Linked DNA regions of Homo sapiens. The protein of the gene in region 7 interacts with the protein of the main gene of each other region in a pairwise test. Each region holds a gene or a part of one and is shown on either strand. Other genes may lie near its edges. The genes, in order: FDFT1, ACSF2, SEMA4G, PAEP, MYADML2, MMD and ARL13B.

Region 1 (3,500 bases), on a different chromosome or scaffold from region 7:
TTGTCCAACCTTTTCTCAAGGTTTTAAGTTTCCTTGCGATCGGTCAGAACGTGCTGCTTTAGCTTGGAGAAGTTTGTTATTACCAACCTTCTGAAGCCTACTTCTGTCAACTCGTTAAACTCATTGTCCATCCAGTTTTGTTCCTTTGCTGGTGAGGAGTTACGTTCCTTTGGAGGAGAAGAGGCGTTCTGTTTTTGGAATTTTCAGCCTTTCTGCTGTGGTTTCTCCCCATCTTTGTGGTTTTATCTACCTTTGGTCTTTGATTTTGGTGACGTACAGATGGGTTTTGGTGTGGGTGTCCTTTTTGTTGATATTGATCCTATTCCTTTGTTTGTTAGTTTTCCTTCTAACAGAGGCCCGTCAGCTGCAGGTCTGTTGGAGTTGCTGGAGGTCCACTCTAGACCCTGTTTACCTGGGTATCACCAGTGGAGGCTGCAGAACAGCAAATATCGCGGCCTGATCCTTCCTCTGGAAGCTTCGTCCAAGAAGGACACCCACCTATATGAGGTGTCTGTCGGCCCCTACTGGGAGGTGTCTCCTCCCAGTCAGGCTACATGGGGCTCAGGGACCCACTTGAGGAGGCAGTCTGTCCGTTACTGGAGTTCAAATGCCGAGCTGGGAGAACCACTGCTCTCTTCAGAGCTGTCAGGCAGGGATGTTTAAATCTGCAGAAGCCGTCTGCTGCCTTTTGTTTAGATATGCCCTGCCCCCAGAGATGCAATCTAGAGAGGCAGTAGGCCTTGCTGAGCTGCGGTGGGCTCCACCCAGTTCAAGCTTCCTTGCTGCTTTGTTTACACTGTGAGCATAGAAGTGCGTACTGAAGCCTCAGCAATGGCGGGGAGGCGCTTCCCCTCACCAAGCTCCAGCATCCCAGCTTGATCTCAGACTGCTTGGCTAGCAGCAAGCAAGGTTCCATGGGCATGGGACCCCCCGAGCCAGGCACTGGAGGCAATCACCTGCTCTGCCAGTTGCGAAGACTGGGAAAAGCACAGTATTTGGGCAGAGTATACTGTTCCTCCAGGTACAGTCACTCACGCCTTTCCTTGGCTAGGAAAGGGAAATCCCCTGACCCCTTGCACTTCCTGGATGAGGTGACGTCCTGCCCTGCTTTGGCTCACCCTCCATGGGCTGCACCCACTGTCCAACCAGTGCCAGTGAGATGAACCAGGTACCTCAGTTGGAAATGCAGAAATCACCCATCTTCTGCATCGATCTTGCTGGGAGCTGTAGACCAGAGCTGTTCCTACTGGGACATCTTGGAAGCAACTCTGGGTCTGAGTTTCTGTTTGTTGCCCTGATGTATATCCCCAGTGCCTAGAATGATACTTGTTACATAGGAAGTGCTTGATCCATGTTTGCACAAATGAATCTTTCTCATAATGAGGTTTCTCTAAACAAGCTGTTCTCCCAAAAACTTAAACCCAGCTTTATGTTGAAGCATCTCATTATACATTGGAAAGATGAAATGTGTAGTGAGACTTTGAATCTTCTTTTGAATCTAGAAACATTAGCATTTTTAGACCATTCTATTTTAATATTTATGAAATTTATGAAATAATAAGAAACATGAGGCCGGGCTCAGTGGCTTATGCCTGTAATCCCAGCAGTTTGGGAGGCCAGGGCTAGTGGATCATGAGGTCAGGAATTTGAGACCAGCTTGGCCAACATGGTGAAACCCCACTTCTACTAAAAATATAAAAATTAGCTGGGCGTGGTGGTGCATGCCTGTAATGCCAGCTCCTGGAGAGGCTGAGGCAGGAGAATCATTTGAACCTGGGAGGCGGAGTTTGCAGTGAGCTGAGATCGTGCCATTGCACTCCAGCCTGGGCAACATTGCGAGACTCCATCTCAAAAACAAAAACAAAAACAAAAAAAATGTGTGACCTAAATTAGGCTTATAGATGAACCATTGCAGTCATGATTAATTCCGCCATTGTTTGCCTTGTGATCTTTGGTGCCATGTCTGTACATATTTCATGATTTCTGTGTTTTTACGGTTTCCATTTCAGATCTCCCTTGAGTTTAGAAATCTGGCTGAGAAATACCAAACAGTGATTGCCGACATTTGCCGGAGAATGGGCATTGGGATGGCAGAGTTTTTGGATAAGCATGTGACCTCTGAACAGGAGTGGGACAAGGTTAGTCTCATAAAACAGTGTCTGTGTGTGATGTATTAGACAGAGCTGGCAGTCCTCATAGTGAAGCTCAGAACAAGAAAAGTTGTCCAGTATTTTCAGCCCCTCTGGTTTTACAATTCATCTGTTTAGGTTGAATGTCTCATCATAAACAGTTTATTCCAGAGTTAATTCCAAACCAGCAGCTATGTAGGATATCAGCCAGGCTAGGAGTAGGGTACTGGAGAGAAGTGCTTATCTAGACAAAGGGATGTAATTGACCATGAAGATTAAAACTACACATCAAAACATAAGGTAGGGTTAGGAGTCTTGCCTATTTTTCATAGGAATGGTGTTTGTGAGACTTACTCATCACTTCTGTGGAAGTAAAGACATTTTATTTATTTATTTTAAAGCCAGTCAGATTTAGCAGGCAGAGACATTTCAGACATCTAAAGTGTTGATGTATTTCATACCTTTAACTGTGCTTAAATTAGGATCTCCGAAAAGATGCTGCTACATGGTCACTACGTTAGTGTAGGTCCAAGGTCTTGGGCCTCTTAATTTTTCAAACCTCAAAACTTGACAGCAGTTATCTTTGGAACTGCTGATTTGTGCTTCCTAAGTTAACAGCATACAATGACTGCTAGAAATCAATTTCTGCATTTAAGGTGAAGTTAGCCGGGTACTATGGTTTACCTGTAATCTCAGCACTTTGGGAGGCTGAGGTGGGAGGATCATTTGAGCCCAGGAGTTAGACACAAGCCTAAGCAACATAGCGAGACCCCGTCTTTCAAAAAATTAAAAAATGAGCAGGGAATTGGTGGCATGTGCCTGTGGTCCCAGCTACTCTGGAGGCTGAGGTGTGGGAGGATTGCTTGAGCCCAAGAGTTGAAGGTTGCAGTGAGCCATGATTGTGCCACTGCACTCCAACGTGGGTGACAGAGCAAGACACCATCTGAAAGAAAATAAAGTTGAAGTTAAAACTTCTGGCCAAGAACCAGCACTGGTTATGATAGTAACTCATTTTCTGTTGTGCAGATTTATTCAGGAAACTTAATTTTAGGTTGTTGAATAGAAGTTTTGATCAGATAAAATTGAATTAAAAAAAATTTTTTTTGAGACAGGGTCTTGCTGTTATCCAGGCTGGTGTGTAGTGGTGTGATCACGGCTCCCCGCAGCCTCAACCTCCTGGGCTCAGGTGATCCTCCCACCTCAGCCTACCGAGTAGCTGTAACTACAGTGCATGACACCATACCAGGCTCATTTTTGTACATTTTTTGTAGAGAGAGGGTTTTGCCATGTTGCCCAGGCTAGTCTCAAACTCCTGGCATCAAACAGTCCTCCCACTCTGGCCTCTCAAATGTTGGGATTACAGGCATGACC
Region 2 (3,500 bases), on a different chromosome or scaffold from region 7:
GTGTCATTGCTGGGTCCCCTGCACCTCCAGAGTTGATCCGAGCCATCATCAACAAGATAAATATGAAGGACCTGGTGGTGAGTGGTGACTGCGGCCCGGGCTGTGGGCAGGCCAGGCCTGGGATGACAGCAGATGGACAGACATGGGGATGAGTCCAGGCCAGATGTTCAAAGGAGACCCTCTCAGCCAGCCCTCCTTCCAGAAAGCAGATGTGAGAAAAGATAGTCTGACCTCATCAGCACCTGGTGGGTGAAGGAGATAGGTGGCAGGGGAGTAAATATAATACATACATACATTTATATTTATAGAAATCTCAGGAAGAAATTGCAGCATGGGAAGATGGACAGCAAAGCACCGATGTCCTGCTAGAACGTCCTGGCAGGTGGGGGCTGGCAGAGTTGGGGCATGGGCTTTAAAACCCTTTCTGGAAGCAAGGGGTGGGGCAAGGATCTGATGATTGTTTCCACGTGGCAGGGAAAGAGGAACAGAGGAAGGATGATCCTGGGAGGGTGGCCATCCTGATGACCAACCTGTTGTGGTTCTGATTGACTTGGGGGGGGGGTCTCAGCAACAGCTTCTCCAAGAGGAGCTGGAGGGTGGGGAAGGCATGAAGGCTGGGGAGAGGCTCAGCCTTCCTTCTCCCCAGGACACTGCTGGGTGGAGCTGGGTTGGTAGTGGAGTGCCCGAGGCCCCCTGCCAGGACGTGTCTAGGTGTAGGCAGCTCTGTGCATCAGCAGAGGCTGTGGGGAGAAGGTATGGGTGGAGGTGAGAAGGTCAGTAGTCTCTCCGGTGGAAGGCAGAGGCCAGTCACCAGGACTGGCTGGGTCAGAACCTGCAAAGAGGCAAAGATCGATGTCAGTACTCCAACAACACAGATGATGCTTGAAGAAAATGGTGGAAGTCCTGGGCAGGACCTTTTCCTCCCTTCAACAGGGGACCCAGTCGTCCCCTCCTCTCTCTGTAAAAATGGAGGGTCTGCCTGACCCTCCAGGGCCAGGGGGTATCCTGGAAGATACCAGCTCACTTGCTGGAATCACCAAAGAGGGACATAGGGGACCTGTTTACCTGGCCCCCACCTGTTTAATGGCGGCCAGCTTTCTTGGACCTCTTGGTGGGGAACTTGCAGCTGCGGAAGGCGTCCGTGTCACGGATGTGCTGGCCCTTGAACTTGGCAGGTGAGGCACAGGTGGCATCTGGGCGGGAGGCCTTGGCTTCCAGCCACCTGGAGAGACAGAAACTTGCTGGGGCTGGGGAAGAAGGTGGGAGTGCTGGGGGGAAGGGCAGTGAACTATGGGGCCAGGATTGACTTGGCCACAGGATAGTCTGAAGCTGTCATCTTCATTTTACAAATGGGGAAACTGAGGCTCCCAGGGTCCCATGCTTATTAGGTAGCAGATCTAGGATGCATGTCCAACATGTCTTAGTGCAGGGCTAATGTGCCTCTATCACATGAGGGTGGGCTCTGGGAGTGACATGGAAGTGTTCTTACCGCCGAAGGCCCCGGAGCTGGCAGGTACACTTCCAGGGGTTATTGGTAAGGGCGAGGGTCTCCAGGCTGTCGAAGGGGAAGTTGGAGGGTAGCTGGTTCAAGCGGTTGTTCTCCAAATGGACGTGTTTCAGCGTGGTTACACCCAGGAAGGCACCATCTGAGAACTGGGGAGCAAGGTGGGAGCAAGGTGGGAGCAAGGTGGTCATGAGTGAATGAGTAAGCACCCGAGTGCCAGAGGGGCAGGATCCTTCCCTGAACCTGAGCCATAGCACTTTGAGGAGTTTCCCAGTTTTCAAAGCAGTATGACCAAGTGATCTCAGATAATCCAATCTACACAACCCCCTTTGAGACAGATGGTGTTATTTTCTTTTTTTTTTTTTTTTCCTTTTTTTTTTTTTGAGATGGAGTCTCACTGTGTTGCCCAGGCTGGAGCACAGTGGCACGATCTCAGCTCACTGCAAGCTCCGCCTCCCGGGTTCACGCCATTCTCCGGCCTCAGCCTCCTGAGTAGCTGGGACTACAAGTGCCCGCCACCATGCCCGGCTAATTTTTTTGTATTTTTTTAGTAGAGACGCAGTTTCACCATGTTAGCCAGGATGGTCTCGATCTCCTGACCTCGTGATCTACCCGCCTCAGCCTCCCAAAGTGCTGGGATTACAGGCGTGAGCCACCACGCCCAGCCAGGTGGTGTTATTTTCAATATGCAAATGGGGAAACGGAAAAAGCGCAGTCCTTTGCCCTGGGTCACAGCAGTGGGTAAACAGTAGCCACAGGACCACACCCAGCTCCTCTTCCCCTGGCACCACAATCCCTGCACAAACACTGGGACTGTGGGGCTGCCAGAGTTTGGCCCCAGCAATCCAAACTGGTACACGGTGAACTTGGTCTGTGCTTGGTGGAGTGGGCAGTGGGCCCAGGCTCCCCACAGTCCCAGGGTCCCAGGACTTCCCTCAGCTCTGTCCTCACTGCTCCCCCACTGCCAGCCAGACGCTATTTGTGAAGCCACCTTGGTGGAGCCTTTGGCCAGGTTGGACGGCTCCAGAGGAAATGTTCTATTGGTGCCCACACCTTTGCCCAGGCGCCACAATTCCTGTCTGGCCTCCCCTGCCCCAAACCAGCCCCTAATTCGCTGCTCTGCTGCCCACTGAAAGACCACTCTGGCACTGGTGGGCCACAGGGGACTCCAACTTCAGCTGGGGAGAGGCAGGGCTGAAGAAGGGCAGGCTTGAGCAGGCTCCTTCCACCCAGACAAAGGTTGGCTGCTGCCCAAGTGAGATTCTGCCCACATCTCCACACCCGCACCCTTTCCTGTGGCCCACATTGAGGTATGAAGGTCTCCAGTAACCAGACTCTCCTCTACCTTGTTGGTTCCCCACCCAAACCTCCTGGCTGAAGCCCCTGTACCAGGGTGATTTTTCCAGTCCCAGAGAAGGGATTCTGCTCTGATCCAAGGTAGCCCCACCTGGCCAGACACTGGGCACCCCAGGGGAGAAAGGAATGAGTGAGGATGCAGACAGGAGATGGGTCTAGTGACGGAGGAGGGCAAAGGGCAGTTAGCAGTCTGGAGACAGTGAGTCACGCCAGTCTTCTCTGTGGAGAGACACCTGGGGTCTTGGGCCAAGGATTGACAATAGTGGTCTTGCCTTTGCCCCTTCACGGAGCCCATGGGCACGATGCTTGCATCCTGGGGGAGCCCTTGGTCCCACGCCTACTGAGCTGCAATGGACTTGAGAATGCAGTGAATTGTGTCTGTGTGGATTGGGCAGGGCCATCCACCAGGGCCTCTATGGGGCATGGAGAATGTCTTCCTCAGGCATTTGCTTCCCCTCACTCCCCAGTCCCCCACTCCCCCTTAGCACACATGCACAGCCCCCACCAGGAACAGGGTCTCTTTGTGGGCCTGATCTGCCCAGCTCCTCTGGAAGGCTCCTCAATAAACAAACCTTCCTTTATGGGGTGGTAGGTTTACTGGAGACGGGAAAAACAGCAGAGGAGGGGTGGAAGGCCCAAC
Region 3 (3,500 bases), on a different chromosome or scaffold from region 7:
TTTTTTTTCCCCGTTTTTTCTTCAGAAAACGGACCTCAGAAAACCAGGACTAGCTCTACTGTCGGGGGCAGGGTGACCCCATCAGTAACCTACAACCCCTCTAGAACTTCACAACTCCCTCTCACCATGGAGTTTGCATTTGATGCAGAAAGGCATGTGATCCCTCCCTCCTTCTGACCTCTTAGCTGGGGATTCCATGGCCACACAACCCTGTGACTCCATGTCCCCCCGATTCCAGGACCCCCCATGGCCCCATGATTCCTTGACTCCTATGACCTTATGACCCCTGACCTTCCAAGTGACTTCCTTGGACTTTGACCCCTGTGACTGTGCTTCCCATTCCCCGCCCCCACAACCTGTGACTCTGGCTCCCTTTGGGGGTCTTGTTAGTCTGGGCCTCCCCAGGAAGATGTGGGGGAGGCTCTGGCCCCTCCTCCTCAGCATCCTCACAGCAACTGCAGTCCCAGGACCCTCACTGCGGAGACCGTCTAGAGAACTAGATGCCACCCCTCGGATGACCATACCCTATGAAGGTTAGACCCTCAACCTCAAAAGGCAGCAGAAGCCAGGGCTGGGGGTGGGGAGGCACCCCAGAACTAGGGCTCACTGTTCCTGCTCTCCCCAGAGCTCTCTGGGACCCGGCACTTCAAGGGCCAAGCCCAGAACTACTCAACACTGCTGCTGGAGGAGGCCTCAGCAAGGCTGCTGGTGGGAGCCCGAGGTGCCCTGTTCTCTCTCAGTGCCAACGACATAGGAGATGGGGCTCACAAAGAGGTCAGGCCCTGGAACCTGGACCACCCAGAGGGTCTCTATGCTTATCCAGCTCCCTGGGACCTCAACTTCCTTAAAACCCTGCCAGCCTTCCATAGCCCCCTGGTCAGACAGCACTGCCCTTCCCAGCCCAGGTGTTCCTTGCATTCAGTGTTCCTCCTGAAATTGATCCCCACCCCAATTTCCCCAACTCTGTGGGGTCCTATTGCCTGGTCCTATGAGTAATAGGTATTGGGGTCAGTGCATCAGCCTATTCCCTTTGCCTCCACTAGATCCACTGGGAAGCCTCCCCAGAGATGCAAAGCAAATGTCATCAAAAAGGGAAAAACAACCAGGTATGTGGTCTGCCCTGTCCCCAGCTCCTTTCCTCCCCTTCTTCCTCAATCAGGGATGCCAGGATTGTTGGGGACACAGATGGGTAGGTACAGACCTGCCAGTCAATCTCAGCAACCACAGTAAACATTGTAAGTATTGCCAGAGTGGCAAGCCATGGGCACAGCATTTTTTTTTTTTTCTTTTTTTGAGGTCGGATCTCACTCTGTCATCCAGGTTGGAGTACAGTGACATGATCATAGCTCCCTGTGGCCTTAAACTCCTGGGCTCAGGGGATCCTTCCACTTCAGCCTCCTGAGTAGCTAGGACCACGGGCACATGCCACGCCCAGCTAAGTGTTTTATTTTTTGTAGAAACAGGGTCTTGCTATGTTGCCCAGGCTGGTCTTGAACTCCTGGCCTCAAGCAGTCCCCCTACCTTAGCCTCCCAAAGTGCTGGGATTACAGATGTAAGCCATTGCCCCCGGCATCTGGGCACAGTACTTCTAATTCAACCATCTGGTGGCCTACTAGTTTGTCCCGCAGTGGCATCTTCATCTCCTCTGGGATCCCAAATAATCAAAATGGCAATAAGTAGGCTGAACGCGGTGGCTCACATCTGTAATCCCAACACTTTGGGAGGCTGAGGGTAGGAGGACAACTTGAGTCCAGGAGTTCAAGATCAGCCTTGGCAACACAGCGAGATCTGTCTACAAAAAAAATACAAAAATTAGCCAAGTATGCTGGCGTGCACCTGTAGTCCCAGCTACTTGGGAAGCTGAGTGGGAGTATCACTTGGGCCTGGGAGGTTGAGGCTGCGTGAGCTATAATTAAGCCACACATTCCAGCCTGGATGACAGAGCAAAACCCTGTCTCAAAAAAACAAACCAACAAAAAACAGTAAGTAACCTCTACAGATGCTTACTTACGATGGGTTACTTACCAATAAAACCATCATAATAAATTGAACCATTGTTAAGTCAGCAACTATCTACAGCAAGTGATGATTTAGCTATTATCTCAGTTAATTCTAAAATAACCCTATGAAATAGTATTATCCTGCATTTTGCAGATGAGAAAAATGAGTCTTTGGTCAAGGAATAGGTCAAATACCCAGTATTCCATGGACAGGCATTAATGAAGCATCAGCCCTTTCCAGCTAAAGAATAGGGTGTCTCCAGGGGTCCCATGTCTGGCTAGGTAATGGCTCCATCTGGAGAGCTTTTACAAAATAAACGGCCCTGGGCTGGGCATGGTGGGTCACACTTGTAATCTCAACACTTTGGGAGGCCAAGGCAGGAGGATCACTTGAGCCCAGGAGTTCGAGGCCAGCCTGGACAATATAATGAGACTCTATCTCTAATAAAAAATAATTAAAAAAAAATTCCCAAGATCCACTGGGCCAAGGTGGGCCAGGGGTGGTGTTGGGACAGCTCCGTTTAAAAAGGCATCTCCAAGAGCTTCCATCAAAGGCTGCCTCTTGGTGCAGCACAGGTAGAAAATGGGGCTGGGGAGGCAGATGGAACCAGGTCATGGAAGGCCACAGATGCCCAGCTGGGAGTTTGGGTTTTATTCTGTGACAGTGAACACCCTCAGAATTTGATACTTTAGAGGCTCTAACTTTAATGTATCACCCAGGTATATTATAAATGCAGATGCTAAACTTAGTAGGTCTGGGGAAGGGCCCAAGAGTCTGCAATTCTAACAAGCTCCCAAGTGAAGTTGATGCTGCTGGTCCCCAGACCACACTTTGGATAGCAAGGCTTTATAGAACAGTTCCCAAAGCATGTTCTGAGGAACATTAATTTTCAAAGGAGGGGTTTAAATGTCAAATGAGTTTGGGAAACACTACATGCCCAGTCCCACAATGCACAGCAACATCCTTCAGGCTCTAGGAAGTAAGCCCAGTAAAGATAGGTTTCACCTGTGGTTTCCAAAGTTATTTGACCAGAGAATTCCTCCCTACCCCCCTTTAAAAAATGTAAACATCCGCTGGGCACGGTGGCTCAGGCCTGTAATCCCAGCACCTTGGGAGGCCGAGGCGGGTGGATCATGAGGTCAAGAGATCGAGACCAGCCTGGCCAACATGGTGAAACCCTGTGTCTACTAAAAATACAAAAATTAGCCCGGCATGGTGATGCACATCCATGCGAGTAGTAGTCCCAGTCACATCACCATGGTGTTGAGAGTAGTAGTCCCAGCTACTCGGGAGGCTGAGGCAGGAGAATCTCTTGAACCCGGGAGGCGGAGGTTGCAGTGAGCTGAGATCATGCACTGCACTCCAACCTAGCGGCAGAGCAAGACTCCGTCTCAAAAAAAATAAAATTAAAAAAATAAATAAACATCTTGGGGAAACATCACTTTAGGAATATTTATCTGGCCCCAGGCACTGGATGGATGAAAATAGGGTGAGTCTGG
Region 4 (4,004 bases), on a different chromosome or scaffold from region 7:
CTCCAGCCTGAGTGACAGAATGAGACCCTTTCTCAAAAAAACAAAGCAAACAACAAACAAATAAAAAAAACCAAGAAAAAAAAAGTCAGCCCACAGGCACCGAGGTGGACAGGAAGCCAGTTGTCAGCTCCCCAGGGTTCCCAGCCACGGACGTAGCTGCTGCCTCTCACCCACGTTGAGCTCATGTGCTGTGAGACCCACCCAGGTACTGGCACATCATGCTCTGGATGGGGGTGGTGGTGTCCTGTAGGCAGAGAAACAGGAAATTGTCGTAGTCAGTATCGAGCAGCGTGGCCTCGTTCGCCACCGTATCTGGGGAAAGAAGAGAAGAACCAAAAGGAAGATGAAGCCTCCGTCTCAGCAGAGTCCTGTGCAGGTGTGTGGACATCCCACCACACTAAGTGGCTTCCTCATCCACTGACACCATGGGACGTGGCCCCTGCTGTGGACCATGATCAGGGAAGCCAGGGAGGAAAGGGGAGGAGAGGCAATGTGGAGGGCCATGGAGCCCCGGCTGAGGGGGAGAGGCCAGGTGTGCCGTGGAGAGGCAGACACGGCAGGCAGGGAGGCTGTGACCTGGAGAGACTCCAACTGAGAAGTCACGTACGGGTGAGGATGGCGGGAGATGGCACAGGAACAGGGCACAGGGGCGGGAAGAGGGAGAAGAAATGGACCTTGGAGAGTGGCTCGATTCTGGGGAGGGCAAGCAGGGTCAGAAAGGCCTGAGGCAAGTCCCAAGCATGAGAAGCAAACTGTATTTGCTGGGAAAATGTGCCCATGAGGGGATAAGAGGCCCCAGACCCTGACCACCTCTGTCTTTTTAAAAAAATAATAATTAACAAAATAGAACAAAATGTTGCAAATTGTTAGGAAGAATTCAGTGGACCAAGGACATGCTGTAAGCCCCTCTCTCTTCCCCCAGAGAGGCCTGGGAGCTCAGCCTAAGACCAGAGCTGCAGCCCCAGAGTGCGCAGGAGGCAGCCAGGCCCACGGGAACAGCAGCCACTTGCCCACCTGCCCACCTGCCCACCTGCCCACCTGCCCACCTGTTCACCTACCCACCTGCCCACCTACCAACTTGTTCACCTGGCCACCTGTTCACCCACCCACCTGTTCACCTACTCACCTGCCCACCTGTCCACCTACCCACCTGTCCACCTGTATACCTACCCACCTACCCACCTGCCCACCTGTTCACCTAACCACCTGCTCACCTGCCCACCTGTTCACCTAACCACTTACTCACCTAGCCACCTGCCCACCTACCCACCTGTTCACCTACCCTCCTGCCCACCTGTATACATATCCACCTACCCACCTACCCACCTGCCCACCTGCCCACCTGCTCGCCTGCAGCCTCCCTGGCCTTTTGTGAGGCCAGAGTGAACAGTGCAACAAAGCACCTGTCCCCTGTGCCTGGGCACAGTGCAGACCCACATCCAGTCATGTCATGCCAAGAATTAGTGCTTCCCCTGCCCTCCAGGTAAAAGATGCCTCTGGGGTCAGCATCAGGTTGACCGGAGTAAACACTCTGACTCCCTGAAGCAGAGAGAGTGGGGACAGGCCAGGCCCCACTCCCTCATGCCCCAGCAGAGCCGCCTCTGGGAGAGCGTGGCTAGCATGCCAGCACTGAGCCAGCCCTTGGGGCCTGGGGACACTCACAGTTGATCTTGAACTTCTTTGGATTCTCAGTCTTCTCTCCAAGGACCTTCTTCTCAACACAGCTGTTGTTCTCCCTGAAAGGTGGTGACAATAGGATGAGTGGCCACTTGAATTGGAGTTGCCTTCACTGTCACTCCTAAAATCAGGTCACCACGGGAACTTCCCCGGGTCCAAGGAGCACCGCAGCCCGCAGCCGCCCAGACCTTCTCCTCAGTCTGACCTGGGGCTGCACTGTGTGGTTGGCTGTTGGCCCAGAGCCTGGGGCAGGGGATCCAAGGGGACAGGGAACGTCTGGAGCCCTGGTTTTCCACCCCACCCTCATGGAAGGGCCACAGTGAAGCCCCTGGCTGTCAGAAAATGCCTGGGGCTAAGTCCAGCTCCGCCCAACCCACCCAGTCCTGGACCCCTGAGGGGGGAGACTGAGCCCCCGCCCAGCCCGTCTCAATGATGAGAAACCCACCATCTGTGCAGAACGATCTCCAGGTTGTCCTCGGGGGTGGGCAACAGTGAGGTGATGTGGACCCTCAGAGGGGCCTTCAGTGTCGCCATGAGGGAGATGTTGTTGGTCGCCATGGCCATGGAGTGCCAGGTCCCTGCCAACTGAGGGGGCCTTGGGCTGCACGGCGGTCCCACCCCACCATGGCTCTCGTTGCACCCGGTGCAGACGGGGCTGAGTCTAACTGGGATGGGTACAGTGAGCATTGGATGGTTGTCTGCTATCTACCAGATCCTGGGCTATGAAATTTCCTGTACTTAAAATGACCAGTGTGTGCTAACTCAGGAGTGTTCCAAAGTCCAAATAATGAGTCACCTAGGATGCTGGGAAACCAGAGAGGCCACCCTAAAGATGGAGAGCAGGGCTGAGGGCTTCCTGACGTCATGGCGTCCATTCTGTGCTTCCTGTAGGTTTCTGAGATCCTGGGCTTCCTGCCTGCCCGCAGCTCCCACCCGCCCCAGGCCTCCCACAGTAAAGTGCCCGCTCCCCCAGCCTCAAACCTTTGGGAGCTCCAGGTCCTGCTTGGTCTGGGGGATGTCCATGGCCGGGACACCACAGACCAGGGCCACGCCCAGGGTGAGCAGGAGGCACAGCATGGCTGCGGCTGTGGGTGGCTCTGAGCTCTGGAGCCAGAGGGATGCTGAGGCAGTGTGGGCTCAGGGGGCCTTATGTAGGAGGAGGGCAGACAAGATCCCCGCCCACAGCCTCGCCATGTGATTCCTCGAACCTGTGACTCATCCTTGGCCCCTGGGCAGCTTCCTCCACTGGGGCAATGGGAGGCTCTTCCCTGCGTCCACGCGGGAACCTCCTCTGTGTCCGGGCTGGGCAGTTCTTGGCAGGGCCTCAGGCGGGAGGGGCCTGGGTCGGGTCCAGGCTGGCAGCGGCGGGAGCACCTTCTGGGTTGGGGCTCCTGGACAATGTTGGGTCAGAGGCCAGCACTGAGGACAGCTGTGTCCAGGGCAGGGGTATGGCCTGTGGGGCAGGCAGAGGGCCTGAGAGCCCCATGGCTGCCCCAGGATGCCACAGACATCATGCCAGTGGGTGACTGACTGCACGGTCATAATCCTGACCTGTACCTTCCACTCAGACATCCCCAGGTGTGCACACCTGTGTCCCTCAAACAGCCAGCCTCTGGACAGGTGCACACTGCCTGTTAGCACTGTTTCTCTCTGACTCACAGGCAAGACTGGGTGGAAATGGGAGGCAGTGGACTTTCAGACTTTGTCCTACAGTCTATATTGGATGTACTTTTTCCCACAGGGAAGCATCACTTTGTAACTTACAATCGAGCCCGCATCTCACTCCCTGGAGAGCACTTGAGTCCTGAGGCAAGACACGGGTGTCCACTCCCACTCCCCCATCCATCAGAGCAGGTCATTCCGGCCAGAGCAGCTAGGCAAGAAATGGTAACTAAAGGCAGGCAGATTGGGAAGGGGGAGGTATACCTGTCTCTATTCGCATATAACATCATTGCCCAGGTACAAAATTGCAAGAACTCTACAAAACCCCTCCTAGAACCGAGTGAGGTCAGCAAGGTCAATCGCACAAAAATCCACCGTGTTCCCACACAGTGTCAAGGAGTAGACAGAACCCGAAACTGGAAATTCAGGATTTGTAATCACACACACAGCATGTAGGCAAAAATCTCACCAAATATGGACAGGACTTAAACTCTGAACCCAAGGAAGGGAAATCAAAGACCTAAGGTAAAGGACAGGCACAATGTGTTCATGGGCTGGAAGCTTCAACACAGCAAAGGTGTTAGCTCTCCTCAACTCAACCTAGAGATTTAATGCAATTCCTATCAAATTCTCAGCAAGATATTTTGTAGGTAGCTATAGACATG
Region 5 (4,157 bases), on a different chromosome or scaffold from region 7:
TTTGTGCCGAAAGAGAAAGAGGCGCAGCTCACCTAATGGTCAATCGGTCAATCGCTGCCATGCTGTCCTGCAGGACCAGGGACAAAACGAGCCCTAGGACACGAAGAGGACGCTGGCCTGTAGCTCCGCAGTGACGGTGACCCCAGGCTGTCCTGCAGGACCAGGGACAAAACGAGCCCTAGGACACGAAGAGGACGCTGGCCTGTAGCTCCGCAGTGACGGTGACCCCAGGCTGTCCTGCAGGACCAGGAACAAAACGAGCCCTAGGACACGAAGAGGACGCTGGCCTGTAGCTCTGCAGTGATGGTCACCCCAGCTTGTCCACGCTGACTTCTCACCTTTCCCAGGACGGTTGGCGCCTTTCATTCTCTGGGGCGAAAACAGTCAGGACATTCATCCAACACTGAGCCGTGTCTCTTCCAGCAGCGATGGCCAAGGCATAGCCTTTGCTATTCAGGGACTGAAAGCAGGGAACTTCCACTGTGTGACAACATTACAAATTTAAACTCTGTACTTAAAAAAAGAAAGCCAGCTGGGCGTGGTGGCTCACGCCTGTAATCCCAGCACTTTGGGAGGCCGAGGCAGGTGAATCACGAGGTCAGGAGATTGAAACCAGCCTGACCAACATGGTGAAACTCTGTCTCTACTACAAATAGAAAAATTAGCTGGGTGTGGTGCTGCGTGCCTGTAATTCCAGCTACCCAGGAGGCTGAGGCAAGAGAATCTCTTGAACCCAGGAGGCGGAGATTGCAGTGAGCTGAGATCATGCCACTGCACTCCAGCCTGGGCAACAGAGCGAGACCCCATCTTCAATAAATAAATAAGTAAAAATAAAAATATTTGTTAACGTTTGTGAATGTATACCACAGCAGCAACAAGCGTGCCTGGCCCCCATGTCTTGGTCTCTGATGCCATTCCCCCAACACAAGGAACCAGGTTCCTGGGAGACACGGCTGACTCCAGGGCTGGGCTGGTGTCTGAGACAGGAAAAAAAAACAGTGTTTTCCCTGCTCTCACACACTCAACAGTCAACATCCAACATGGAATACTTCATCTCTGGTCACCAAAATGTGTGTGGGGATTTTCCCCAAACACCAAGCAAGTCTCCAGTGGACACCTACTAGGCATCCTCCAACCCTGCTCCAGCGAGTCTCCGCAGGCACCCACTGGGTGTCCTCCAACCCTGTTCCATCCAGTCTCCGCGGACACCCGCTGGGCGTCCTCCAACCCGGTTCCATCCAGTCTCCGCGGACACCCGCTGGGCGTCCTCCAACCCTGTTCCATTGTGACGCTTTCTCCCTGGAGACAGTACCCGATCCTGCAGGCTAAGGTCTCAGTCCCACAAGAGTGTCCTCCACTTCAGATGCCAGTCCCAAGTACAGCTGTCCCTTTGTATCCTTGGGGGATGGGATCCAGTACCTCCAAAACACCAGAATCCACAAGGCCAGAGTCCCTGATACAAAATGGCATGTTATTTGCATATAACCCCCTCCTCTGGACTTAAATCACCTCTTGATTACTTATAACACCTGGTATGTAAATTCTATGTAAACAGTTGTTACATAGTATTGCTTTTTAAATTTGTATTATTTGTATTATTATTACTATTATTTTGAGATGGAGTCTCCCTCTGTCACCCAGGCTGAAGTATAGTGGCATGATCTTGGCTCACTGCAATCTCCGCCTCCCAGGTTCAAGCAAGTCTCCTGCCTCAGCCTCTGGAGTAGCTGGGATTACAGTCACATACCACCAGGCCTGGCTAATTTCTGTTATTTTTAGTAGAGACGGGATTTCACCATGTTGGTTGGTCAGGCTGGTCTCAAACTCCTGACTTCAGGTGATCCACCCACCTCCGCCTCCCAACAGTGCTGGATGTACAGGCATGAGCCACTGCGCCTGGCCTTATTTATTGTTTTATTTATTTATTTTTTGTATTTTCTTTTGAGACGGAGTCTTGCTCTGTTGCCCAGGCTGGAGTGCAGTGGCGCGATCTCGGCTCACTGCAAGCTCTGCCTCCCGGGTTCACGCCATTCTCCTGTCTCAGCCTCCCGAGTAGCTGGGACTACCAGCGCCCACTGCCACACCTGGCTAATTTTTTGTATTTTTAGTAGAGACGGGGTTTCACCACGTTGGCCAGGATGGTCTCGATCTCCTGACCTTGTGATCCGCCCGCCTCAGCCTCCCAAAGTGCTGGGATTACAGGCATGAGCCACCGCGCCCGGCCTTTTCTTCTTTTCGAGACTGAGTCTTGCTCTGTCGCCAGGCTACAGTGCAGTGGCACGATCTCGGCTGACTGCAACCTCTGCCTTCCGGGTTCAAGCGATTCTCCTGCCTCAGCCTCCCAAGTAGCTGGGACTACAGGCACCCACCACCACGCCCGGCTAATTTTTGTATTTTTAGTAGAAATGGGGTTTCACCATGTTGGCCTGGCTGGTCTCAAACTCCTGACCTCAGGTGATCTGCCTGCCTCAGCCTCTCAACGTGCTGGGATTACAGGCGTGACCCACCGCGCCGGGCCAGTATTTTTTGTATTTTCAGTCTGAGGTTTGTTGAATACTTGGGTGTGGAACCTGAGGACAGATGACCAAATGTAGCAGGTGTCACCCGCCCTCTGGCCAACCGAGGTTCCCATGGCCCCTCCTCCAGTTTTGTGACTTTGCTGGAGTGGCTCACAGAACTCAGGGAAGCACTTTCCTCATTTTATTATTTATTGATTTACTTTTGGAGATGGGGTTTCATTGTGTTGCCCGGGCTGGAGTGTGACGGCATAATCACAGTTCACTGCACCCTCAACCTCCTGGGATTAAGCAGTCCTCCCACCTCAACCTCCCAAGTAGCTGGGATTACGGATGTGCACCACCACGCCCAACTCATTTTTTTTTTTTTTTTGAGATGGAGTCTCACTCCGTTGCCCAGGCTGGAGTGCAGTGGTGCAATCTCAGCTCACGGCAACCTCGGTCTCCTGGGTTCAAGCGATTCTCCTACCTCAGCCTCCCCAGTAACTGAGATTACAGGCATGTGCCACTACACTTAGCCAATTTTTTTTTTTTTTGAGACAGAGTCTTGCTCTGTTGCCCAGGCTGGAGTGCAGTGGCACTATCTTGGCTCACTGCAAGCTCTGCCTCCCGGGTTCACGCCATTCTCCTGCCTCAGCCTCCTGAGTAGCTGGGACTACAGGCGCCCATCACCACGCCTGGATAATTTTTTGTATTTTTAGTAGAGATGGGGTTTCACTGTGTTAGCCAGGATGGTCTCGATCTCCTGACCTCGTGATCCGCCCACCTTGGCCTCCCAAAGTGCTGGGATTACAGGTGTGAGCCACCGCACCCAGCCAATTGTTTTTTTTTTTTTAAATATAGACAGAGTTTTACCATGTTGGCCAGGCTGGTCTCAAACCCCTGACCTTAAATGATCTACCTGCCTCGGCCTCCCAAAGTGCTGAGATGACAGGCGTGACCTACTGCGCCCAGCCAATTTTCGTATTTTTTGTAGAGATGGGGTCTCACTATGTTGGCCAGGCTGGTCTGGAACTCCTGAGCTCAAGTGATCTGCCTGCCTCAGCCTCCCAAAGCGCTGGGATGACAGGCGTCAGCCACCGAGCTCCGCCAACACTTTATTTATGTTTCCCCATGTGTGACAAAGGACCCAGATGAACAGCAGATAGAGGCAATGCTGTTCATCTGGAGGCCTCTCCAGGGAGCTTCCAGGACCCTCCAAGCATTCCGCCACCTGGAAACCTCCCAACCCTGTCCTTTTGGGTTTTATGGAGACTTCATTACGTAGGCATGACTGATTACATCATTGGTCACTGGTGATCAGCTCAGCCTTCAGCCCCTGTCCCTCCTGGAGGCTGCAAGTGGGGCTAGAAGCTCTGCCCTTCTGATCACATAGTAGCTGCCACCAACCCCCCACCCCAAGGCTGTCCAGGAGCCCACCAGGAGTCGCCTCATTAGAACAAAAGACGCTCCTGTCACCCAGGAAATTCAAGGGGATTGGGAGCCCCATGTCAGATGATCCTATGGGTTAGGAGATTATAAAGGTTTTAGGAGCTCTATGTCAGGAACCGGGGTCAAAGACCAAATACCACAATAAAAGACTCCTCCTGCCTCTGTCTGAAAGGGTCTTAGAAGTTCTGTCTCAGAAACCCAGGGCAGAGA
Region 6 (3,500 bases), on a different chromosome or scaffold from region 7:
TAGCTTCAAAACTGGATATGTGGGAAAGCATTTTAATCTACAGTATTAGAAGTCTTACAGGGCTACCTATTGTCTTTTTTCCCATGTTCTTAAAGCACTAAATCATAGGCATGGGGTAGTCTCCTTATATATGCCATCTTCCTTTATTTAATAATTAAGTCAAGATTGGCACTATTGACAGTAGACACTTTTCCTGAACAAATATGCTCAGTCATAAAGGGGAGCTAATAGTAAGAGGGGTCCACTTATACGTTGCAACATAAATGATGTTGAAGGGGCCCTTGGAATATCCGTTGTCTTGGATTTTAAGTGTTTTTGTGTGTGTGTGAGATTCGGGGTTCTCTTGGTTCCAAGGCTGCCTGTTTCTCTTACTTACAGAACCTGCTGTGTCCACAGTAAAACTAATTGACTATGGGATATCTTTGTTAAGACAAAATAGTTCAGCAGTAGCTGGAATGTCTTTCTATTCATTCAACAATTATTAAGCTCTAGCAATAAGCTGGGCATTGTACTTCAGTTTGGTAATGGAAAGGTGAACAAGACAGCCTTCATGGAATTCACACTACAGTGGGAAAAGATGAAATAAAAAATAAGCTAAAACAAATCAAAGTCTTACCAATTGTGACATAGGGCTCTGGTTGGATGGGGAGGGTTGAAATGATACTTCAGTTAGGATAGTCTGGAAAACCTCTCTTGAGGAGGTGACATCTGAGCTGAGCTGAAAGGATGAGAAGAGAGCTGAGCATTCTGGAGAATATCCTAGACAGAAGTAAACAGCAAGTACACATGCCCAGAGGCAGACACAACCTTGATGTGTTTAAGGAGCAGAAAGGAGGTGGTATAGCCAGAGGATGGAGAGAGAGAAAGATGCCACCCTGAGACTGGAGGGGTAGTGAGGCCCAGACCACTCAGGGCTTGTGGGCCTCTGAACACTGTGTTACAGTGCTATCGTAAGCACTTTGGGAAGCCAGAGGCAGACTTTAAGCTGGGATTGGGGTGTGTGATGTGATCTGGGTTTTTTGTTGTTGTTTGTTTTTGAGACAGGGTCTTGTTCTGTCACCCAGACTGGAGTGCAGTGGTGCCATCACAACTCACTGTTGCAGCCTTGACCTCCGAGGCTCAAGCAGTCCTTCTACCTCAGTCAGAAGTAGCTGGGGCTACAGGCATACACTACCACACCTGGCTAATTTTTACATTTTTTTTTGTGTGTAGAGATGGGATCTCACTATACCGCCTAGGCTGGTCTTAAACTCTTGGGCTCAAGCAACCTCCCGCCTCAGCTCCCCAAAAGTGCTGGGATTACAGGTGTGAGCCACCATGCCCAGCCCCTCATCTGTTTCTAATGGAAAACTGTAGCTGCTATGTAAAGAAGAGAGTCTGTACTGGGTCAAGCAGGAAGACTAGTTAAGAGACTTTGTATTTGTACAGACCTGAGATGTTAGGTCTTTATTTAAGGTAGGAGACGCGGAGCTGGGATTACAGGTGCACACCACCACACCAGGCTAATTTTTGTATTTTTGTAGAGATGGAGTTTCTCTATGTTGGCCAGGCTGGTCTTGAACTCCTGACCTCAAGTGATGAGGTGGACTTATTTGAAATATATTTTGAAGGTAGTGTTGATGGTACTTGCACTCGGAGAATGAGGAACACTTGTGGGATTTGATCTACTGAGATCAGCCTCTGAGATCTGCTGGTGGGTTGCAGATCTACTCAGTGGGCACAGTGCTTTAGGTTGAATTTAAAGTGTGTTAGTGTGCTAAGGAGTGTTCCCAGGTCTCTGATCTGTTCTTTCCCTCCATGGTTTTGAAATTCTGTCATGGCATGGGAGAGGGGTATGGGGGAAGGAGGAGGTGATAAGAACGTTGGGCAAGGGGGAAGGCAGGAGAGTTTTGAAAGAGAAAGTGAAGGAATGAGTAAAAAAACTCTGCCTAACTAGTAGCTTTATTAAGTGCAGCTCCCACTCCCAGGACTGAATCACCTTCCTTCAAACCCTCTAGAGCTTGTTGGTTACTCAAGCATTGAGTAACCATTAGGGCCACTCCGCTTTAAATAGAGATGTCTTCCATAAATGGATGCTGTTTTCCATAACCAGCACTTGAACCTTTCCCATTCTTTTTTCGGGGAAGAGATGAAGGCCAGAGTGTGGGAGTTGATTTACATTTTACATCTGCTTTTCCATTTAGGTTTTAGGAGTGATTTCTTCAGGAGGCTGTGGAGGAGGCTTGATTGCACCCTGGCAGGTTAGAGAGAAATGGGAAAATTGTATTGTACTTTCCCAGCAGAACAATTATGCTGTCTATCCTACTGAGCCCCAGATTTAGAGAATTGCTTCCAGGATAGTTACCCTTATCTTTCCCTATTGCCCGTGTCTTACCCTGTGCATCAGGATAGAGTGCCTTAAGTCACCATGGGTGGGATATTTTTCTGTATAACTTTCTACTTTTATTTTTTAATGTGAATTATTCCAGGTGATCAGGGACTAAGCTGTCACAAACATGGCCATCCAGTTTATTTGTTTTTAGGAGAAAATGTGAAAGTCTATCCCTGTTGCTGGGTAATGGCTTGACTATTTTTAGATTGGGCTGCCAGAGATATAAATTGCTATTTTAGTCTGCAGCCTGGTGGTGGGTAGACAAATCCTACTTACTGCACCCTACACAGAGCACATTCAATTTCATCTAACTACAGCCATCTTGGGGCCTTGCTCTTTAGCCTTGAAAATTCCTAATAGGGTATGCTACTTATAGCTCTGTTGTTATGTCTCAGGACAATGATGTGGTATATCCTCCAATTCTTGGGACACTTTTAAAGCATTCTTCCCAAGAGTGTAATTATTTTCTTTTTTGCTAATAAGAGCTGTATAGCAACACTCTTGTCTCTTAGGAAATTAGTAAAATTATTTAAAATATTATCAGGGGAGAAAAGATGATGCTTAATAATAGTTAACTATATTTGAGAATAGCTTGGATAAATTTTGAAGCTACTAACTGTATATTTCTCTTTAACAGTTGGTTTTCAAACCATCTGGTAGATTATACTCAGTAAGTACATATTTTGTACACTAGTTAAATATCTTAACCCATCAGTGGGCCAAGTGAAATATCTTCACTGTCCCAAATTCATTCCCCAGTGGATTTTCCACCTGAACTATCTGTATTGTGTTAATAGTGGCTGCCACTTTATTTTTATTTATTTGATCTAACGATAACAGGCTCTTCCTAACTCAGGGAAAGAGTATTGGCTGGTCTTTTATTAATAAACTTGGCACTCTCTAAAATGGCTTGGTCATGCGTTTTAGCCAATTTTTGGCAACTTGGTTCTACCATTTGGTTCAGCCCTGTACCATTTTTTATTTTGTGTATGAATAAGGTAATGAGTAGTTAGAACTCATTAGTGGCACAAAATACCAACCCCCAACCCCCATTCACACTTCTTTAAACTAGCTTGAGCAAAAGGATTATTTATTGTGCAAAGCCTGTTGACGTCTTACAGACTCTTAA
Region 7 (3,500 bases):
CGACCTCTTTATCCTATAGGAGACTAATAACCAAAACTTACAAGGAAATCAACAACAAAAAACAACCCCATTAAAAATGTGCAAAAGACATGAATAGTCATTTTTCAAAAGAAGACATACAGATGGCCAACAAGCATATGAAAAAAATGCTCAATATGCCTAATCAGAGAAATGCAGATTAAAACCACAATGAAATACCATCTCACACCAGTCAGAATTTTTAGCTGTTACTGAAAAGTTAAAACATAGCAGATGTCTGCGAGATTGTGTAGCAAAAGGAATGTTTATACACTCTTGGAATGTAAATTAGTACAATCACTATGGAAAACAGTATGGAGATTTCTTTTTTTTTTTTCTTTTGAGACGGAGTCTCGCTGTGTTGCCCAGGCTGAAGTGTAGTGGCGCGATCTCGGCTCACTGCAAGCTCTGCCTCCCGGGTTCATGCCCTTCTCCTGCCTCAGCCTCCCGAGTAGCTGGGACTACAGGCGCCTGCCACCACGCCCGGCTAGTTTTTTGTATTTTTAGTAGAGATGGGGTTTCACCGTGTTAGCCAGGATGGTCTCGATCTCCTGACCTTGTGATCCGCCCGCCTCGGCCTCCCAAAGTGCTGGGATTACAGGCGTAAGCCACCGTGCCCGGCCAGTATGGAGATTTCTTAAAGACCTAAAAAAAGAACTACCATTCAGTCTAGCAACCTCACTACTGGGTACCTATCCAAAGGAAAAGAAATCATTATACAAGAAAAGATATCTGAACTCAAGATGTTTATCACAGCATTATTCACAGTAGCAAAGGTAGGGAGTCAACCTAAATGTCCTTCAATGGATGATGAAAGAAAATGTTTGTGTGTGTGTTTTGTATATACATACATAAAATGGAATGCTATTCAACTATTTAAAAAAGCATGTTTTTTCCAGCAACGTGGATGGAGCTGGAGGTCATTTTTTAAAGTGAAATAATTCAGAAACAGTCAAATCTAGCGTGTTCTCACAAGTGGAAGTTAAATAATGTGTACACATTGACATGGAGTGTGGATTAATAGACATTGGAGACTTGGACAGGTGGGAGGGTGGAAGGGGAGTTAGAGATGAGAAATTAATACCTACAATGCACATTATTAAGCTTATGGTTACACTGAAAGCCCAGACCTCACCACTATGCAATATATCACCACTATGCAATACATTTACATCACAAAACTGCACTCATAATCCTTAAATTTATAGGATTTTTTTTTTTTAAATCAACCTGATCACCTTCGGAGGTTGCTACGCCATTAATTCATTATTTTGAAAATCAGGAAATAAAGGCAAAGGATCAAACATTTATCTTGACTTTGTGAATTTTAAGAGGCACCAAGTAGTTGGTGAAAGCTTATTTTTAGCAAGAATCCTGCTAGTAAATGCAGAAGGAATATGGAACTATAAAGTTACTGTTTCATAAACTTTGGTAAAATAATAGAATTAAGTAAAGGTCATCAATGGCTGCTAAAATCATTAAGTGAAAGATTAATGAGGAACTTTATTTTGGATGGATCAGGCTAAATGTAAATCCATTAGTTAATTTTATACCACCAAAATAGGACATTATATAAAAGTGATATTATATGCCTCCCTAAATACAAGCACCACCTACGAAGTATGCTTGCCAAAAAGATTTCATCTGAAACTCATCCAGCTTCTTACCACCAGATACGGGAAATATAGGATAGGTATGTTAAATAAGTTTATAAGGAAGATATTAGCCAAATCCCAAACATGGGAATTCTAAAGAAAAATTACAAATGTCATGGGAGGAAAAGAGTCATGGGGGTGGTAGTGGGGAGGGCAGGTATAATATAGATTCAAAAAGAGTTAAGTGATAAGTAACGTATATTGGACCTGAATTTAAACATAACACTTGTAAAATGATATTGGAGAATATTGAGTAAATTGAGTAATATTGAAGACTTACTGTTAATTTTGTTAGGTGTGATAGTGGTATCATGGTAATGATTTTTTAATATCTGGGTGAAGTAATGTGATTCAGGCAGCAAAATAGAAGGTATGTAGATTTTAATGGTAACTTGGGAAATACAAAAAAAAAGAAGGTATATAGATAAGCAAGAATGACACAGTTTTGATAATTTTTAAAGATAGGTGGGAAGGGTTCGTTAGATTTCTTAGTCTATGTACTTAATTTTTTTTTTAACCTAAAGAGTCTGTCAAACTTTGAGCAAGGCAGTATTTTATTAAACTTTTAAATCTATGTTATATAATTAAATAGTGGTAAATTGTGGTAAATCCTGTTTTTCTGTAGAATATATTGGTTTTCCATTTTGTTGGTGTCCAGTTTGTCTCTAATTGAGTACAATTTTTTTTTTTTTTTTAATTCCCAGTGCTTTGCCAAGTATATTAGAAGTGGCCTTGGGTCTTCAGTAAATTGCACATTTATGTGGACACATTCACACATTAGAATTGTAGATGAGCTCAAATATTAAAAGTTCAGAATGAATATTTGGGCATTTAAAACATTACAGTTTGTATTTTAAGAAGATAAGAATATAATTTATGGATGTGACCTGTGGAAATTAGTCCTCTTATTTTTCTGTTTTGTAGCTTTTTCTGTTTTGTTGGCATATTGATCTCTTGTTTATGTTTTCTTGACACTTTATTTGATTTTCCTTTTATAGGCCAGTACTTAAAAACTATTTTAGCAATAATAAGGGAAAAATGACAAAATTGATGCTACAACATTTTAAGATACTAGTGTGTTCTGTAATCAGTACATTTAAAACTTGGGAATCAAAGAATGTGGTCAGGCCAGGCATGGTGGATGATATCTGTAATCCCAGCACTTTGAGAGGCTGAGACTGACAGATCACTTGAGGTCAGGAGTTCAAGACCAGCCTGGCCAACATGGCGAAACCCAGTCTCTACTGAAAATACAAAAAATTAGCCTCGCGTGGTGGCACACAACTGTAGTCCCAGCTACTCTGGAGGCTGAGGCAGGAGAATCACTTGAACCTGGGAGGCGGAGGTTGCAGTGAGCTGAGATTGCACCACTGTACTCCAGCCTGGGAAACAGAGCAAGACTCAGTCTCAAAAAAAAAAAAAAAAAAGAATGTGGTCAAAATATCTTTAAGTTTCCATCCAATTATATATATGCTGTATAAAAGTACTTTAATTATCTTTCAGGTTGGCAAATAAACAAGATAAAGAAGGAGCTTTAGGAGAAGCTGATGTCATTGAATGTCTATCTCTGGAAAAATTGGTCAATGAGCACAAGTGCCTGTGTCAGATAGTAAGGTTTTTTTTTTTTTTTTAATTTTAATTTTTTGTCCTTTCAAATAGGTTCAGTATAACTTGGTTTTTATAAAAGTGATAGCAATTAAAAGGCAATGTTTTCAAAGAATTTTTTGTAACCTATGAAATCACATTCCCATTTTTCTGTTGATATAACTTAATACCATAATATTTGTTGTCTATTTCATTGTTATTTCCATGAACTATCTTTCCATG

The links.
Region 1: the proteins of ARL13B (region 7) and FDFT1 interact in binary tests that used the Homo sapiens proteins (3 or more experiments, as listed by UniProt).
Region 2: the proteins of ARL13B (region 7) and ACSF2 interact in binary tests that used the Homo sapiens proteins (3 or more experiments, as listed by UniProt).
Region 3: the proteins of ARL13B (region 7) and SEMA4G interact in binary tests that used the Homo sapiens proteins (3 or more experiments, as listed by UniProt).
Region 4: the proteins of ARL13B (region 7) and PAEP interact in binary tests that used the Homo sapiens proteins (3 or more experiments, as listed by UniProt).
Region 5: the proteins of ARL13B (region 7) and MYADML2 interact in binary tests that used the Homo sapiens proteins (3 or more experiments, as listed by UniProt).
Region 6: the proteins of ARL13B (region 7) and MMD interact in binary tests that used the Homo sapiens proteins (3 or more experiments, as listed by UniProt).

Annotation. Positions count from the first base shown.
Region 1 is NC_000008.11:11,819,741-11,823,240, forward strand, and holds part of FDFT1 (squalene synthase), read left to right. Parts: intron 1-2,009; coding exon 2,010-2,138; intron 2,139-3,500. UniProt on the Homo sapiens protein: Catalyzes the condensation of 2 farnesyl pyrophosphate (FPP) moieties to form squalene. Proceeds in two distinct steps.
Region 2 is NC_000017.11:50,464,218-50,467,717, forward strand, and holds part of ACSF2 (medium-chain acyl-CoA ligase ACSF2, mitochondrial isoform 2 precursor), read left to right. Parts: coding exon 1-77; intron 78-278; exon of another isoform or gene 279-308; coding exon of another isoform or gene 309-382; exon of another isoform or gene 383-1,080; coding exon of another isoform or gene 1,081-1,222; intron 1,223-1,489; coding exon of another isoform or gene 1,490-1,653; intron 1,654-3,500. Other genes in the region: CHAD (chondroadherin precursor), read right to left, coding at 1,081-1,222, 1,490-1,653. UniProt on the Homo sapiens protein: Acyl-CoA synthases catalyze the initial reaction in fatty acid metabolism, by forming a thioester with CoA. Has some preference toward medium-chain substrates. Plays a role in adipocyte differentiation.
Region 3 is NC_000010.11:100,972,504-100,976,003, forward strand, and holds part of SEMA4G (semaphorin-4G isoform 1 precursor), read left to right. Parts: intron 1-25; 5' UTR 26-409; coding exon 410-533; intron 534-625; coding exon 626-774; intron 775-1,043; coding exon 1,044-1,106; intron 1,107-2,481; exon of another isoform or gene 2,482-2,581; intron 2,582-3,500. UniProt on the Homo sapiens protein: Cell surface receptor for PLXNB2. May play a role in axon guidance.
Region 4 is NC_000009.12:135,560,552-135,564,555, reverse strand, and holds the start of PAEP (glycodelin isoform 1 precursor), read right to left. Parts: upstream 2,801-4,004; 5' UTR 2,755-2,800; coding exon 2,659-2,754; intron 2,263-2,658; coding exon 2,123-2,262; intron 1,737-2,122; coding exon 1,663-1,736; intron 313-1,662; coding exon 202-312; intron 1-201. UniProt on the Homo sapiens protein: Glycoprotein that regulates critical steps during fertilization and also has immunomonomodulatory effects. Four glycoforms, namely glycodelin-S, -A, -F and -C have been identified in reproductive tissues that differ in glycosylation and biological activity.
Region 5 is NC_000017.11:81,944,434-81,948,590, reverse strand, and holds the start of MYADML2 (myeloid-associated differentiation marker-like protein 2), read left to right. Parts: upstream 1-1,357; 5' UTR 1,358-1,532; intron 1,533-4,157.
Region 6 is NC_000017.11:55,415,336-55,418,835, reverse strand, and holds part of MMD (monocyte to macrophage differentiation factor), read left to right. Parts: intron 1-3,500. UniProt on the Homo sapiens protein: Involved in the dynamics of lysosomal membranes associated with microglial activation following brain lesion.
Region 7 is NC_000003.12:94,032,155-94,035,654, forward strand, and holds part of ARL13B (ADP-ribosylation factor-like protein 13B), read left to right. Parts: intron 1-3,176; coding exon 3,177-3,282; exon of another isoform or gene 3,283-3,287; intron 3,288-3,500. UniProt on the Homo sapiens protein: Cilium-specific protein required to control the microtubule-based, ciliary axoneme structure. May act by maintaining the association between IFT subcomplexes A and B. Binds GTP but is not able to hydrolyze fit; the GTPase activity remains unclear.